Linked DNA regions of Homo sapiens. The protein of the gene in region 1 interacts with the protein of each later gene in a biochemical or structural test. Each region holds a gene or a part of one and is shown on either strand. Other genes may lie near its edges.

The links. The genes of interacting proteins can lie anywhere in the genome.
Region 2: the proteins of EPB41L1 (region 1) and AGAP2 form a complex in vitro, tested with the Homo sapiens proteins (one study listed by BioGRID).

Annotation. Positions count from the first base shown.
Region 1 is NC_000020.11:36,157,678-36,161,426, forward strand, and holds part of EPB41L1 (band 4.1-like protein 1), read left to right. Parts: intron 1-3,749. UniProt on the Homo sapiens protein: May function to confer stability and plasticity to neuronal membrane via multiple interactions, including the spectrin-actin-based cytoskeleton, integral membrane channels and membrane-associated guanylate kinases.
Region 2 is NC_000012.12:57,732,033-57,735,781, reverse strand, and holds part of AGAP2 (arf-GAP with GTPase, ANK repeat and PH domain-containing protein 2), read left to right. Parts: intron 1-354; coding exon 355-413; intron 414-1,102; coding exon 1,103-1,190; intron 1,191-1,377; coding exon 1,378-1,463; intron 1,464-1,608; coding exon 1,609-1,756; intron 1,757-2,802; coding exon 2,803-2,937; intron 2,938-3,269; coding exon 3,270-3,379; intron 3,380-3,749. UniProt on the Homo sapiens protein: GTPase-activating protein (GAP) for ARF1 and ARF5, which also shows strong GTPase activity. Isoform 1 participates in the prevention of neuronal apoptosis by enhancing PI3 kinase activity.

The sequences.
Region 1 (3,749 bases):
GGGGTAGATAAGTACTGACTAGGAGCTCTCAGAGAAGGATTAGCCTTGGCCTTCTCCTTCCTGGCCAGGGTCCCCCAGAAGTGGGGAAACACCAGACTCCCTGCTCCCATTGGCTTTTAGGGAAGATGGGCTGGCTCTGGACACATCCCGAGGCCACAGTGGGGACTGGGCTAAGGAGGCCCTGTGGGCAGGGAGCTGAGCCTTGGTGGATGGGTGGGGGTGGAGCAGGCTGGCACTGCTTCCTTTGTGGGCTAGAGGCTTGTGGATCAGAATAGTAACAGCTAACATTTATTGAGCATTTATTATGTGCCAGGCCCAGTTTTAAGGGCTTCCATGTACAACTCATACGTTCTTCACAAAGCCCTGTGAGGTGTAGATGAGGTATAGGAGTTATTCTTCCCGTTTTACAGATTGATGGAGCTGTGGCTTAGATAGTTGTTCAAGGTCAAATAGCTAGGCTGTGGGGGAGTCAGGATTCAAACCTAGGCAGTGTGGGTCAGAGCCATGTTCCTGAAGGCCATGCCAGGCAGCCTGTAGTTTCTCAGAGGCCATACTCTGTTTTGTTCAAGTTGAAATAGTCACTCAGTCAGATGCATCCCTCTCCTCAAAGGCCTCCCAGTCTAGCTGGGAGAGATGCAGACATGACACACTAAAAGTAAAGAGTGTGCTATTGCATAGGCTCAGCATGGATTCCTATTTTGGTGCTCAGGGAAGGCTTCAAGAAGACGGGGACCTTTGAGCTGGGCACTGAAGGCCAAGTCGGATTTCGATGGTTGAAGGGGGAAGGGCACCCACTTCCCCAGGTCAGAGGGGAAGGAAATAGGAATGCCTCTGAAGAAGAGTGGGCGGTCTGATGTGCGTGGAACAGATAGTGTGTGTGGCGGAGTGTGAGCTGGGAGGTGACTCAGAAAGTCACCTAGTGTTTGGGTTTTTGATGGAGCTCTGGAATCCACCAGACGTAGGCTATAGTCACAGCAATGCATTGTATTAGCCACGTGGCCTTGGGCACATCACTCAGCTGGCCCAAACCTCAGTTTCCTCATTCGTAAAATGCAGATAAACATGCCTGTCTCACAGGGACCATGTTGTGGTTGTTATATAAAGCACCTAGTGTAATGCTAACACATTGCAGGAACTCAGTAAACATTACTTCTCTCCCGCTTCTGTCTCTCTTAAATGTCAGGCCAAGGTGTTTCGACTTGACGTGAGCCGGGATGCTCTAGGAATCTTTGCAGGATTTTAGTCTGCTGAGGAGCATGACAGAACTGTGTTTTGGGAAGGTCCTTTTGGCAACCGTATGATCCACAGGAGAGGGTGGACGTGATCTTACAGGAGAAACCTTAACTGTGGGGACTTGGAGGGCTGGGGAGGGATCAAGATTGGCACTCATTAAGGTGTCCCTCTGGTAGTGGGTGGTTCGCCAGGTTGGAGAAGGAGGAGCTTGGAGTGGGTAAGGCCACAGGGTCAGGAATTCTGTTTCAGGCCTGGTGAGTTTGAGAAGGGCTGGTCTCCCTTTAGTCATCTGGAAGATTGGGTAGCATCTTTTTTGCACATCTGGCCTGTTTTTCCTTTGAATTATTTCTTTTGAATAAATCCCCATCAGAGCTTCCTCTATAATAGCAGTAAATTGGGACTAAGTGTCCAACAATAGGAAGATGATTGGGAAAGCTTTGGAACATCCACTGGATAAAATAATACGCAGTGGTGAACACCCACAGAAAAACTGCTTGCAGTGGATGGAGCTGTGCAATTGCAAAGCTCTTTTGCATCCTTGATTCATTTTGTGCTTATGACTGCTCTGCGACAGAGGTGGGGCCGGGGCTAGATCCTTTCTGTGTTTGAAGAGAATGACGCTAGACTCCAGTCTCCTTGAAGGCAGAGTTGAGTTCACATTTTATTCATTGTTTCGTCGCAGCATGTTGCTCAGTGGTTTGCAAATACTTGTCCGATGAAAGAATGAGTGAACTAATCAAGAGGGGAAGTGACTTGATCAAGGTCACTCAAGTTGTAAGACATAGTGCCTGCCATATTCTTGCTATTCCCTACTTGCCACATTCTTCTCACTAACCACTCACTATCTTCGAGGGGAATAGGACAGAGAGGTTCCCAGTGAGGACCTGGCACTTGCATAGAACAGGGTTTAAGTCTTCTTTCTGTTTTTACTAGCTGTGAGGCAATTGGCAAGTTAATTAATCTTTCAAAGCCCCAGTTTGCCCAGCTGTAATGTGGATAGTCCAAGTACCTGGTTTTAGGGTTGTCATCAAGATTGAATAAGTTAAGGCATGTAAACATCTTGGCATGGTAACTAGTACATAGTGAAGTATCCATGAACATTAGTGGAGATGATGATGATGTCATGATGTGATGTCATTAATGGTCTGATACAATTAATGTTAAATGGGAAAGAAGACCCATAAGATTATCAGTATTCATATTACAATGGTATAAAATTAGGTATGAACATAGATACAGATTGGAAGAAAACAGGTAGAAAATGGAGTTCCAGCAAGCATATGGGAAGTGAATAAAACAGAAAAACAAATATTTCTTTACTGTTATATTTACTTTTCTTTAGTTTTAATTACAAAAAAAATTTGTGGAAAATCTAATAATTCAGAAGTGTAGGCCAGGCACGGTGGCTCATGCCTATAATCCCAGCACTCTGGGAGGCTGAGGCGGGTAGATCACCTGAGGTCAGGAGTTCAAGACCAGCCTGGCCAACATGGTGAAACCCCATTTCTACTAAAAATACAAAAAGTTAGCCGGGCATGGTGGCTGGCGCCTGTAATCCCAGCTACTCAGGAGGCTGAGGCAAGAGAATCTCTTGCACCCGGAAGGCAGAGGTTGTGGGGCAGTGAGCCGAGATTGCGCCATTGCACTCCAGCCTGGGTGACAGAGCGAGACTCCGTCACAAAAAAAAAAAAGAAAGAAAGAAAGAAAAAAAGTGTATTCTCCCCTTAGATCCCCAAACAAATCCTACTCTCCAGTCGTAGCTAATAACAGCATGTTGTGTATCCTTCCAGGATATTTTCTATACCAACATAAACATACAAACCAGAATGGGATCATACATTGCATTATTGTTTTACAACTTGCATTTTTCATGTAACTACACATTGACATCTTTTTATGTCAGTAGATATAAAATCTATCTCAAAAATTTTTGCAATAGGTATGTTATACTTTCATAATTAAATTTTTAATGGATAAACCCTACTAATTTGGCCAGCCCCCCTGTTGATTGACATTTGAAGTTGTTTCCAATTTTACGGTATTCTAAGTAACGCTAACTGAACTCTAACAGTATTTAGACAATTAGTGAAAATCAAGTGAGAGAAGGAGTCAGAAACCATGAGACCGTGAGAGTTGCCCTCAAAGGTCTGCTGCTTCTCCCTTCTCCTGTTCCCTCCTCTCCTCACTGGAGCCTGGGGGAACTGGTCTTGGAGGAGGCCATCTCTCTGTCACCCTCAAAAGGTGGTGATGTCCCAGGGAAAGACCCTTTCTTTCACCCACCCAGTATGGAGCTCTCCTAGGAAATTTTCAAATTCTCTTAGGATGCTCTAAGCTGCTGCTTGGGCTGTGCAGCTGCCCACACCCAGACTGTCCTTGGACAAGCTTTCTACCTTCTCTGTACCTCAGTTTGTCCATCTGTCTGGTGGTGATCAGAGCCATTGCTGCCACTGAGTGTCTTCTATATGTCAAATACTGTGCTAGAGCAAGCTTCATGTGCATTATCTGTTTTTCTATTT
Region 2 (3,749 bases), on another chromosome or scaffold:
CCTCTTCTATTCTTTTTCCAGAGGGAAGAACCTGCCACTGTCAGAGCCCTGGTCTCCCTGTCTGGGGCCAGGACCCGCGTTTGGGGATGTGCTTTAAGGGAGATGCCAACTGAAGTATTTTTGTCTTGCTAGCTCCGTTGCTAAGCAACCACTGAGCGGCAGCAACAGCTGGGGGAGAGTGGCTGGGATGGGAGGCCTGGGGACCACCCTCAAACCTGTCTGTTGCACACACCTCTCCAGTGCAGGCAGGGTTGGGGGGGGGTTGGAAAGCTGCAGAGGGAGGAGGGGTGGCTCAGTGTTGGGGGTCCTTCTGAGCCAGGAGCCTCCCCTCTTACTGCCCTTCTCCCGTTACAGAGGCTGTGATCAATAGCCAGGAATGGACTTTGAGCCGCTCCATTCCTGAACTGCGCCTGGTAGGTAACCCAGTCCCCTTGCCTATAGGGAAGGCTGACCTCCCACCCACTGCACTCTCAGCTCTCTCCCTTCACCTCTCCTTCTCTCTCTCTCTCTCTTTGGGAATAGGGAATCGTTTTCCAGTTCTCCTGAGAGTCTGCCTTCATAGCACCAACATGGGGTTTGCTACAGCCTCCTCACAAGTTTTTCCTATCTAGTCTTTATGCAGCCATCCCCTTTTTCCTGTTTGTTCATGGTCCTCCTCCAGGCTTCTCATTTCTGGTATCTGCCCTTTGGCCTTCATGTTGTACTGCCTAGAATTGGGTAAAGTTTTCCAACTAGTGCCTAGAGCTGTGACATGCTACAAACACACACACACAGAGACACACACACACAACATATCTAGTATGTTTTCTAAACAACCCAACACACAAAAAAGCTGGTACTGAATTGCTGACATTCTTCAGCTCGTGCTCCACTTTGAGCTTGGGATCATTTCTTACCACACTCATGCCCTGATCCTCCCAACTGCTCTGATCCCCCCAGCTGCTCTGATCCTCCCAACTGCTCTCTCTGGAATGACTGTCATCCAGGCCCTGTAGGGTCCTGCTTGGATGACTTATCTCTCTGGGTTTTCTGGAGTGTCCAGACCCATGCATCCTGCCTTCTCTTATATCCCACAATTTCTGCTCCACAACCTTGCCCTCAGGGTGTGCTGGGCGATGCCAGGAGTGGGAAGTCATCGCTCATCCACCGATTCCTGACTGGCTCATACCAGGTGCTGGAGAAGACAGAGAGTGAGTTCTGAAGAGCCATAGTAAGCTAACCATTGGGGTCAGGGATCCAGGAGTGAGATCAATGATTAGGCAGGTGTGGAGACCAGGGGGGAAGGATGAGGCCATAATAGCAAAAGCACTGGGAGCATGGGGAGGTTTGGTGACCTGTCACCTCTGACCTGTTACCCCTTCCAACTCTTCTGGACAGGTGAGCAGTACAAGAAAGAAATGTTGGTGGATGGACAGACACATCTGGTGCTAATCCGAGAGGAAGCTGGGGCACCTGATGCCAAGGTGAGGGTGGAGGTGGTGGGGGACAGGCTGGCTGGGGTCAGCACTGGCCAAAGGAGAGGGCTCTGGTTTCCCAGGTCTTCATCTGGATTGGGTCCAGAGGAGTAGACCTGTCTGACTTTCCATTTGCTCCCTCACTCCCCGCAAGTTCTCAGGCTGGGCAGATGCTGTGATCTTCGTCTTCAGCCTGGAGGATGAGAACAGTTTCCAGGCTGTGAGCCGTCTCCATGGGCAGCTGAGTTCCCTTCGCGGGGAGGGACGAGGAGGCCTGGCCTTGGCACTGGTGGGGACACAAGGTAAGGAGGGGTTAGGAAAGCACTGCTTTCAAGGGAGGCCCTAAGGAGGCTACTGGGATATTGCCCAACATGGGTGAGAACTTGGTAAGGTGTGGAAATGGCCACTTGGATTATAGTACCCTTCTGGAGGGAGCCTGGTCTCCAAATAAGGGAGTCATGAAACCAAACAATAACTTCCCAAGGTCTGAGCAGAGAAAAGGGGATCTCCAGGGAGGAAAGGACAGCTATAGTAGCCATCTCCTTGCCTCTCCTGAAATGTCACCTACCTTGTGTTCTGACACTGCCATTTCCTAGTGCCACCATCCTAGGACACAGAAAATCTCAAGTCCTAGGGTGGATAGGAAACCTTTTCCATCTTCCTTTTTGCGACAGCTGGGTAAGGCTGACACCTTTTAAAGGAACTTATCCAAAAACAAAGTGAAAACACAAAGGAAATGATGATGAAAAGAAGAGAGCAGAAAACCTTTTAGTTCTCAGAGAAGTGACTCAGAGGCTCCCAGACTCTGCCAGGGCCAGGAAATGCTTTTCCAGCACTCCCCTGTGTCGAGCTGGTGGGACTTGGTCTGGATGCCTGTTCTGCTGGTGCCTATCTCCACCTGTTGCTTGCATCCTGGTTTCTTGCTGCAGAGTGGGCAGTCCAGCCATGACCCATGGGCACCCAACCTTTTCCTAGTTCACAAGCTGGTGTCCTCCCACCAGTTCAGGGTTCTATGGATTTGCAGGGCAGGGTGATTGTCGCTCGCGCCTGGGTCTCAGCTATGTAGACCTTGTCAGGAAGCACCACTCAGCAGCTCTGGAGTATTCCTTGAGGACACACACACACACACACACACACACACAGCTCACCCAGCTAGGTGTGTGAACTGGGCCCAGTACTCAGAAAGGGCTTATGTACTCCCATTCCACCTGGTCACAGAAAAGATGATCTCTCACACCCCATCCCCAGTGGACCCAGCCTGAGGGCCCAGTGCAAGGATAAGGGAATTGTGAAAAATCGAACAAGGTGGGGCTCCTTGTTCAATCCTGCCCCTTTCCTGTCCCCTCAGACAGGATCAGTGCTTCCTCCCCTCGGGTGGTGGGAGATGCTCGTGCCAGAGCTCTGTGCGCGGACATGAAACGCTGCAGCTACTATGAGACTTGTGCAACCTATGGGCTCAATGTGGATCGGGTCTTCCAGGAGGGTGAGTGTAGTGATCTCCAGCATATGTGGGAAGCCAGAGCAAGGGGCCTGGGATATTCTCAGTGGTCAGGCATCCAGGCCTCTCTCTGTGAGTGACAGGAAATTAGCCTTTGTGGGAGGGAGGAGAGATCAGGGAGGCCAGAGAAGGTTTGCTTAATAGTCGCAAGGTCTTTCTGGGCTGGAGGAGCTGGCAAGGCCACAGGTGGCATGGAGGCCACAGTGACAAGGAAGTTGGGTCCTGTGTTGTCTACTGGGGATTTCTCAAAGCTGGGCATGGAAGGGTGGTCTTGGGTATCTGGCCTGCTCACACCTCCTTCCGTCAACTCCCCTCAGTGGCCCAGAAGGTGGTGACCTTGCGCAAGCAGCAACAGCTTCTGGCTGCCTGCAAGTCCCTGCCCAGCTCCCCAAGCCACTCAGCTGCATCCACTCCGGTAGCTGGCCAGGTGAGTTGGGGTTTCAGAGTCTGCAGAGGGGCCGGTAAGATGCAGAGGGGCTGGGGATCCTAGGACAGGTACAGAGTACCCAAGGAGGTTCAGGGAGTGGGGAAACAGATGGAAATGGCAGTGAAACTATTGGCAGAAAGTGCATTGGACTGGAAATCAACCAGATTTGAGACATCATTTGCAGTGTCCTTAAGCAACTCACCTAACCTCCCAAGGCTATCAGGAAGATTGTATGACACAATACTTGTGAATCAACCTTTACAACATTTAAAGCATTGTCACAATGTTAGTGAGGATTTTAAAAATTATTAATGACAACATAAATAAATGGTGAGGTGATCAAGGAATGTCTCAAATTCCCCATAACGAG